Linked DNA regions of Homo sapiens: all the other regions are reported to be linked to region 2. The links are microRNA targets in miRTarBase. Many come from high-throughput screens and were not tested one by one. Region 2 holds a microRNA gene; each other region holds the end of a gene's coding sequence.
What was found. Region 2 holds the annotated microRNA hsa-miR-154-5p (UAGGUUAUCCGUGUUGCCUUCG, at 1,532-1,553, opposite strand). A microRNA usually pairs through its seed, bases 2 to 8, with sites in the 3' UTR of a target mRNA and lowers its output. Matches are read on the target gene's strand: a 7mer-m8 pairs with bases 2 to 8, a 7mer-A1 pairs with bases 2 to 7 and ends in A, and an 8mer does both.

Region 1: the mRNA of SLC25A36 is a reported target of hsa-miR-154-5p. The part of its 3' UTR that is shown has no 7-base or 8-base seed match.
Region 3: the mRNA of CLDND1 is a reported target of hsa-miR-154-5p. Seed matches in the 3' UTR shown: 7mer-m8 at 1,533-1,539.

What each region holds. Positions count from the first base shown.
Region 1 is chr3:140,975,879-140,979,239 of GRCh38, forward strand. It overlaps SLC25A36 (solute carrier family 25 member 36), which reads left to right. Exons shown (of 7, transcript NM_001104647.3): 7 at 382-3,361. The coding sequence ends at 575. Among named protein-coding and RNA genes, the nearest start is that of SLC25A36, 36 kb to the left of the region's middle.
Region 2 is chr14:101,057,961-101,061,321 of GRCh38, reverse strand. MIR154 (microRNA 154) reads right to left here and starts at 1,567; the gene lies at 1,484-1,567. It overlaps MIR496 (microRNA 496), which reads right to left and starts at 749; the gene lies at 648-749.
Region 3 is chr3:98,513,992-98,516,991 of GRCh38, forward strand. It overlaps CLDND1 (claudin domain containing 1), which reads right to left. Exons shown (of 5, transcript NM_001040181.2): 5 at 1,492-2,888. The coding sequence ends at 2,668. Among named protein-coding and RNA genes, the nearest start is that of CLDND1-AS1, 7.1 kb to the right of the region's middle.

The DNA of each region.
Region 1 (3,361 bases), not on the chromosome of region 2:
CTTTTCTGCTTGTTTCTCACTGTATCCTTTTTATATTCATCCTGGATGCCACCTCTTTACTGCCTCTTCACCTTTTCCTCCTTCTCATTTCTATTCTTCCTTTTATCTGTTTATCTAGCATACAACTGATACTTCTCTCTTGTTATATTGTGTCTTTTTACATTCAAAGACTATAAAGTCTATAATTAATGTACATGATTTTGGCCATATTAGAAGTTTGATGTTACTATAATGTGACTGGTTTCAATAAGCTACACATTAGAAGCCATCCTTTTTTATCCTGAGCTTACACTTACAGACTGATAAATGGGATGTGCTCAGTTATAATTAGAAGAGTGTAAAGATATCAGTAATGTTTAATTTTATTTCTTTCCTACACAGAAGTTGTAAGAACAAGACTACGTGAAGAGGGAACAAAATACAGATCTTTTTTTCAGACTCTATCTTTGCTTGTTCAAGAAGAAGGTTATGGGTCTCTTTATCGTGGTCTGACAACTCATCTAGTGAGACAGATTCCAAACACAGCCATTATGATGGCCACCTATGAATTGGTGGTTTACCTACTCAATGGATAGCAGCACGAGGACTGCTGTACTGCAAAAAAAGAAGACCAAAAGATTACAGTGGACCATGGGATACAGAAGCCAGCATGGCAGACAGAAGAAAAATAGTTTGGGAACATGTAACTATTCTAAGTGGAAGTTTTGTTGTAGGAATTATAGTAATCACACCACATTACTTGGCCTTTCGGTAATGTGAAAAAAAAAAAAAACCTCAGAGCCTCCAAGGAAATGCCTTTAGAAGCACTCCTCTCTCAAAATTGCCATTTTCTCTACCATGTCCCCCAGACACAGTTGGGTTTTGTTGATTTATGGCAGTCTTCTAAACAAAGCCATCCTTAATTTTACATACTGTATTGTAACTATCCAAAGATAGTATTGGCAGTCATAAATTTATAACTTCTGGCCTTTGTTTAATTCCAGTAAAATAACAGCAATGACAATGAGATCGTCAGTATTATTTTCACATTTCCCTGAGAGGACCTGGCACAATATTTTAAATTTAATTATTTGGCAGTAGTCACTGTTTTTGACAACCAATGAAATAGCGTCTAAATATCTTGTATATTTTTTAGCATCAAAATGTTTTGGTTTCCACTGCTGACAGGTGCTTGTTGTTTAGCCTAATGTGGATATTTAAATTGTTAACATACCAAACACACATGGTAATAGTTTGGGACAAAATAACTAGTAAAATGTTGATTTCTCGGCTTTTTCACTGACTGCGGCATGTCCTCGTGTCTTCTCTGATTTTGTGGTACATGAATGAATGCATTTATCTTTTTAGTGACTTACTAGTTACGAACTTGAATTATCACCTCTTTGTCATACTTAAGTATCATTTACATAAAGTGTAAAAGATTTTTTCACTTTTGAATCTTTACCTACTTGCTTTCACATTAAGAATTTGAACTTTTGAGTTTTTTCCAGGTCTATATATAATAGATTACATTTATTTTGTAAAGAAAATAGTAATTTAAAGTTTTGCCATTTTAAGGTGACAATATTTGGGACAGTATAAATATTATAGACAAGGGCCCCCTTGCTGTCTGCTTTAGCAGGTAGTGACATTAATTGACTTATAGTTTTGTGTAAATGAACAAACTGCTTTTGACAAGAAATTTATTCTGTCCTAGTTTCCTGCGTGGTAAATCATAGAAAGATTCAAGTTCATTTGGGTTAAATGTGCTAATAGGATGTAGCTTTTAAATTCTGCTATTGAGTCAGCTGTACCTTTTAATACTTTAAATGTGTTATTTGTATGGCCCTTATAAAGGTGTTTGCTGTAATTCTGTTAAAAGACTTCGCCTATGCCATACTGGTGTATAAAAACTGCCGCAATTGGACGCCGGTGTGGTACTCATTTCAGTATACCTGAACTGTACATTTTGTGCAATGGCTTTATCTAAAAGAATGACGCTTCGTGAAAGCACTTTGTGGCCTTTTTTGGGGGGGAGGGTGAGAGAGTAGGAGAGAATACCATGTTAAGATTAAAAAAAAAAACAAAAACATTGGTCACGTATTAGGCAGAAACAGTGTTCATAACATTTTTCTGGGTTTTAAATATGTTGTTTCGGATATCCTTAATATAAATGTTTTAGGTATTCTGTGTACCCTGTCGTACCCCCAACATTATAGAATATTGCAGCGTGTCATTGCAAGCTTTCTCTGCTGTCACCAGTGAAACATAGTGCCCTGTTAAATTCCCCCACTTTAACTTCCTTGTGATCAACAGTAACTGGATGTTTTTGAGGTGCTCAATTGGAATAAAAATATTCCAATCTATTTGGAGACCAAAGGCAAAATCAGTTTTCTTACCTTTGGAATTATTCGTACCTTTTATGGTAAATTTCAGCTTTGACATGTATTATGAGGAACGTACCAAAAACCGGTTTGTAACAAATCTGTAGAGAAGGTCTGAATCTATCGTGTTTGCCTTTTCAGGTGCCATTTCTACTGCCTAATACAGTGCCATTTGCCTTGTGAAGACCCATAAACATTCATTGTGTTGAATGTAAGATAGAGACTCTCCCTAGTCTTACTGATCTCAGTACCCCACAAATGATTAAGAATGATATGAAAACCAGCAGCTAAGGAACATCTTATTATTTAGTTGTAGCATATTCATAACAAGTGTCCTTCAAGGATAAACATATATTCTCTATTTGTATTTAGCAAGTAAAACTTGTGTTGACCTTTAGTGCATTATATTCAGCTTTTAACAGTATTATGTATGTACTGGAAAGCAAAGAAATCTTAGAGTCTTGGACATTGTTTATTTGTGCAACAACTAGAAAGGAGCAATGAAGTTTATTTCAGTTGTATTTTTCCCTAAGCACAATCTGCAATAGTTTATGTATGACAGAGATAATTCAAAAAGGAAAACTATATATAAAAGTTGTATATAAAGTTTGTCTCTGAAATATTTCTTTGAAGTTTTTAAAAAATCGACTCATGTTTAAAAACAAAAACACATATTCAGAGCATTGGACTTTTTTAACTTGTTTTCATCTGTTTATCATGACTTTTTTATTTCTGGTGTAGAGTCCACATTATTTAGTTTGTTGTACTTTTAAATTTCAAAGTTCAAATCTGAAGAATTAGCGTTTGTGATTTCGGGATACCATGCAGTGGTTTTAATCCCAGGAAAAAAACTATCACCAAAAGTTCGTTTGATTCTCATTATGTAACTTTGTAGAACCATCCTTTCTAGATGGGTCCACCACAGTGAATTTGTAACTTTGAAGTCAGGATAGAATATCATTAGATTATCTGTGAGATAGCATTACTATGTTAGGACC
Region 2 (3,361 bases):
TTCATATAATGACCATCCTCAGAAACAATGCTTATCCTACAGCCACGTGCCAGACGCTGTCTAGACACTTCACAAAGAGCACGTTTCCACTCCGCTGTTAACCCTGCTTTACAGAGGAAGAGACTGAGGCCCAGAGAGCTGATAGGTGAAGGGATTTTCCAAGGGCACACAGCTGGCAACATAAGGTAGTAATAAATGCTATTAACAATTCTCGTCTTGCAGTAGGAATAACCGAGTCGTGCCATGGAAATGTGTCTTTAAACAACATTAATTCTCACTGCTGAGGAAACCCCCTTCACCCCTTGCTTCCCAGAGGTCACCCAGAAGATAAGGTATTTGAGGGCGTAATGTGGATGTCTTCCATTCAGCCAGGAGTTCCTTTCCCTAAAGTGTGCCACACAGCCAAGATGATTTCACACCTAAAAAGGTTGACTAAATGTGGTTTATTCACTGACGAGTCTTCAAGGATGCGACTAGAAGACCACCATGTCAACTAAAACGTCAGCATCATTTCGGGGAATTCCTCCTAATGATGGCCGGGATATGAGCCAAGTGATGTAAGTCACACAGAGAGCACCTGTCATGCGGAGGTGATCCACTTCCTTACCCTGCGCAGGTGCCGGCTGGGCTTTCCCCTCGTGACGTTTCCCAAGAAGAATTGAGTACCGAAAGGAGATTGGCCATGTAATACTCATCATAAATAAAATGAACACACCATGGACAACCTCCATTCGAGTACCTGACTTGGGTGCTCGCTTCCAGCGCGTCCCAGCAGCAGGCCTGAGGACGGACGGGATACTGAGAGTCAGGAAGGTGGCAACACACCACCCACGAAATAAGCTCTGCGGTCCGGGCCGCACTCCATCCCTTACTTGCAATTAGCACCTCTTGCAGGAAGCCATTCAGGGAGGGAAGTGCCACAGCAGAGAGGTCTGCAGAGCACCATCTGTGATACATGAAGAGAGGGCAGCAGGGAAGACAGCAAGACGGTGTCTTGTCAAACATGCAGTGAGCCGATGAGGGAACTGCCGCCTCTTTCGAGGAAACTGCCATGGTAAGCAAGCAGGACGCCTGCAGGTGCACGACCCACCAAGAAGAGTGTGCACACTGTCAGCTTCGCCGTGCGTTCAGGCATTCAGACACCAGTTCTAGTTCCTAAACTCGGCACCACCCGAGGGTGCTTTAAGGCTAGATTTAATGCTTTCAAAAGAGTCCACTATGTAGGATTGGTCAAAAAATAAATCGAATGCATCATGGAAGACCTCTCCACCAGTACCACAGAGTAGCTCTGATAGGAAAAGCTCCACTTCTTCCCCAAAGGTGGCACCATCTCTAGAAACCTCCCCAAGGACGGGGCACACACAGGGTTAGGGCCAGGGCACACTGCTGGGTCGGCTATGGTCAATGGTCCCCTTCCTTACCCTGGAGAGGAGCTGACACCCTGAAGTAAGACTCCGCTCCAGGAAGCCCTCCAAGGCGGGATTTGGTACTGAAAAATAGGTCAACCGTGTATGATTCGTCACAAATAAAGCGAAGGCAACACGGATAACCTATCTTCAAGTACCACACGCTAGCGCAGACCCAATGTCAATGCCTGTTCTCCAAAGTTGGCCTCCTCCAGGAAGTCCCCCTAGGAGACAGTGAACATTGACGGTTAGCAGACGGACTGCAAGAGGGTTGAGAAGAAAGCACACGCCCTGTATTCAACCATTCCATCCCGGACCCTGCAGCCATCCAGACCTCAATGCCTTTGCCAAGGTGGGTGCATGTCTAAAGGAGCACTGCCAGGGAACCTGATGGTGGAGAGGCCAAGTGCACAGAAACTCAGCATTTGGATCAGAGCAGGGCACATTCCCTCATCTCACATTAGCATCGAGGCTGACAGTAATGATCCTTTCCTTACACAGGCCTTGTGTCCAGGAACCCTCCAAAGCTGAGTCCATGACAAAGAGACTGACTTTACAATATTGATCATACAGAAACAAACAGCATTGAATGCAAACTTTATTAGACCATGGCATGGCACTGACCTCAGAATCATGGCCTCATCCCCAAAGGTGAGCATAATTTCCAGGAAGTCTTCCTAAGGATAGATTGCATGCTTGGGGTTAATGGTACTTCATATATGGTTTTTCAAACTCTTCCATTGTTAGCAGAAAATTCACATACCTGGCCAGTGGTGCTGACTCCCACGACCATCTCAGAAGTGGCATTGCCATAAGGCATCCTGCCAGGGTGGAAGGTGACACTGAGGAGGGGGCATCTGGGTAGGATTGTTTTAAATAGACAAATGCACAGTGCAAATGACAACAGACTGACGTGCAGACAGATGGCAGCAAGGGGCCAGATGACAGACTTTCTTCTCCTCCAGTACACAATGAAATGAACAAAACAGATTATTTCACCAAAGAAAAAACCAACACCTGGAGTAGAAAAGTGCTCATAAAATGAATAAATCCTTGAAACAAAGGAACGATTAAATCTACTCATCAAGAAGGCATATTATGATTCAGAAAAACTAATGAATAAAAATAGTGACTGAGTCATAACCCGGTAAAGTCACCAACGTTCAAGACTAAAGAAAGAATCAGGAAATCTAAGCAGGAAAAAAAAAAAGTTCATCCATCCAAGGGAAAGCAGCTGTCCCCAGGCTTGTCCACAGCAATGGTTTAACACCAGAAAGCAATGGAGGCAAGTTTACAAAGTTCAGAGGGAAGAAACTGGGAGCCAAGAATGTCATGCCAAGTTCACCCATCATTCAGCTCAAAGGCTCCATCCCAGCAACAAGCACTGATAGGGAACCCTCTCCTCCACAAACATTGAGAAGTGTTGGATAAAATGCAACAGCAGGCAAAATCAATTCCCAAATAAACATACAGCTGAAAGGCAAAACCCTCAGGTGTTAATGAAAAGAATTAGTTCATGCAACCTGCCACTAAGGGATCTAAGGGATGCTGTGCTGGCTAGAGGCTCCAAGGGTCTACAGTCAAGTTCAAGTACAAGCAGGATGAAAAGACATGACCGTGCATCCAGGAGAAGTTGATCTGGGAATGGAAAGGGGAACCAGAAAATTTTATAATGGCCAGGGATAAGAGAATTTGTCATTTTTAGGGAGTGGATAGAATGAGGTCTCCTGTGAGATACCAAAGGTTCAGGACAAAGATATGGTGAGGACTTCTGCCAGCCATATGTCTGGGAATCCTTAAGCCAACAAAATGAGTTGAAAAACTGGTACCAACTGGTAAATTCCTTGGGGTACCAGGCAGAACCAAATGCAAACTCATGTGCATAGGGATTGAAACAAAACAGAAACACCTAAGTGCTCAACTGATGATAACCTCACAACACAAAGCTACAAAAA
Region 3 (3,000 bases), not on the chromosome of region 2:
ACACACAACTACAGCAGGTAAAATTTTAACACATTCCCATTAGATTATAAATTTGAAATCCTAGTGTAATATGATGCAGACAGAAGGCACACTGTTATCTGAATAAATTCTAGAATTCCTTTTTTGTTGTTGTTGTTGTTGTGCCAAATTGTGTTTTATGGCTATACTTAATAAATTTTGAAATGAGTCTTTTGCTAAAAATCATAGAGGATATTTACCCACATCATTTAGTTAGGAGCTATAAAATCAAAGTCTTAAAACACATTTGTTAAACTGCCACAAAATTCATTCTGAGGCCGGGTATGGTGGCCCATGCCTGTAATCCCAGCACTTTGAGAGGCCGAGGCGGGCGGATCGCCTGAGGTCGAGAGTTCAAGGCCAGCCTGGCCGACATGGGGAAACCCCATCTCTACTAAAAATACAAAATTAGCTGGGCATGGTGGTGCATGACTGTAATCCCAGCTACTCGGGAGGCTGAGGTAGGAGAATCGCTTGAACCCAGGAGGCAAAGGTTGTGATGAGCCAAGATCGCACCATTGCACTCAGCCTGGGCAACAAGAGTGAAACTCCACCCCAAAAGAAAAAAAAATTCATTCTGAAAAATCTGAAAATTAATTTTTTACTTTGGGGGTTGCTTTCAAAGATTAAATAGGGTTCGCCTTGCCACTGATTTTATCTATTAGGTTGATCAAAAATGGCTGAATATCTGCAGTTTCATATGGTTCAACCTGATTAGAATCAGTTTCACATTTAAATGAACAATACAGCCCTATATATTCCAAAGAAAAAAAGTCTTTGCAGGAAAGATAACCTCAGCTACCCTGCAACATGCTAAAAATACCAACTACAATGCAGCACCAGGGGTTATGGTGCTAGTAGCTTCCCATGTAACTCTGGGGTATTAAGAGGCAGGGACATTGTTTAAAATAACTGACCAATACAAAAATGTCATGCTGCCAAAAATTTTCTTATCCCATTCCCAAAGGTGTTTTGTTTGTTCATTTAGCTTTTCTCTTTTCCACCTTCCACAGAAGGCGCTGAAGGGTAATGAATCTTCAAGAATTAAGATTAGATAGAAACCTGAGTAACCAGTCATTTCACAGGCAATAATTGGCTACAGAGTAATGCTGACTTTGTTCTAAGTCAGAAGCTGACTTGGTTATTTACTATAGAACACAAACATCCACAGCCACTAAATGACTTTACTGAAAACTAGCCACATTAAGTATGACATGTAGAGATAACAAAACTACTTTTGAGAACATGGTTTAAAATTCTGAAAAATAAAAGATAAAGATTTTCTTATTTCTAATAGGGGGAAGGGGTTCCTACATTTCCCAGAAGATCAAACAAGAGACCCAAACACAGGATGTAACGACAGCCCTGTACAGCAAGATGCACTTTGCACAGACAACCACAGAGATTGCCTCCACTTCTTTATCCTAAAGTGTTGAGATTTAAATCAATTCAGACACTCTATATACAATTGAGTCTCTTTTCATTTTTAATTTTATTTTTTAAAAAAGACATTGAGGTTATGGTAAGAAATTATGAAGTTACATTTTTTTAATCTGTCAATTGCTACAGTAGTGGAATAAATAAATAAGTTTTTTAAAGTTCAATGTTTATAGACATACTTATAAAAAAATGACTGAATTAGAAGACATTAAATAATGTTGATACACACCAGGAAGGGATTTAGGCAAGGAAAGGCACATCATATTACCACAAGAAATAAAGACCATAGTTGGAGGTTAATGGACAGCCAGAACTTTAGATCTTGTGGTAGGTTTCCCAGCTCTGGAGGGTCATTATGGTGAAACGTTCTTTATAGTACTGGGCTGGAATAAATAAATAGCAGTTGAGGAATTTTACCTTGTAACTGTAATATAATGTAAAAAGAAAGCACACTTTTAATAACCCTGGTATGTGAAGAGGAAAGAAAAAAAATCCAAAACAATTTGGTGGTACTGAAAATCTTACGGAGAGTTAAAAATAATACTAATCCTCGCCCGGCTGAACTGGAATTCTTGCAGTTACAAAGTTAAAATTTCAAGTAAACACTGTATTTTTCACTTTTTGTAGACAGACACAGTGCAGATACAAACAGCTGCCATATCTCACCTCAGATGAAGCTATGTGTCAATGCTTAGGGAAAATGATCTTAGATAATTTCCCAATTTTATAGAGCTTAAATCTTTGAAAACAGCACTAATACTGCTGGTTGACTGGCTATCTACAACAGCAAAGTGAACATAAAGTTTTGACGATGAGAGGTTTCCCAAAGAAACTAATATAGAGTTTTTAGTTGAACAGATACAGTTACTTTAGTTTTACTGAAAAGTCTAACAGACATTAGCACAACTTGTTTTCGGTCACATTCCTACTCCCAATTTTCTTTCATAAATTTGTGTCAAGTCTCTATCCATTTCTTTCTGTCTAGACCTAGATTAGTTTATTTGAAAGATGGCATCGCTTAAAGTAAACCACATAAATTTTAGTGGTATTAAGTGTGTATTTAGTGGTGAATGTGTATAAATAAAATAGATTTTCATAATAAAATGGTATATCCACAAATAAAAATTAAAAACAATTGAGAGGTGGGGAAAATATCAGTATTATTTTAAAAAAATAAAAATGGCAATTGTAAAGCAGGCAGTTTCTTGCTCATGCCACACGATATGCCTTCATTAAGGTGTACTCTTTCCGGTTGGTGTGAGCAGCCCAGATGAAGAGAGCAGAAGCCATGAACTGTAAGGGAGCAGAGACACAAGCCAGGCAGAAGGACCATCCAAATTCACCGGATACATTGTCAGGGAGCTCTAGTTTCTGGTGGAGTAGTTCAATTCCAGCAACATAACAACTTACTGAGCCCAGTGTACACAGACCTTGGGGGAAAATTTAGAAAACAAAACAAAACATGGCTGGATAAAAGCACAGTAAAGAGCTTTTCAGGCAATGTGACAGGGCAGTTAATACGTGAACATTTCAGATTTATAA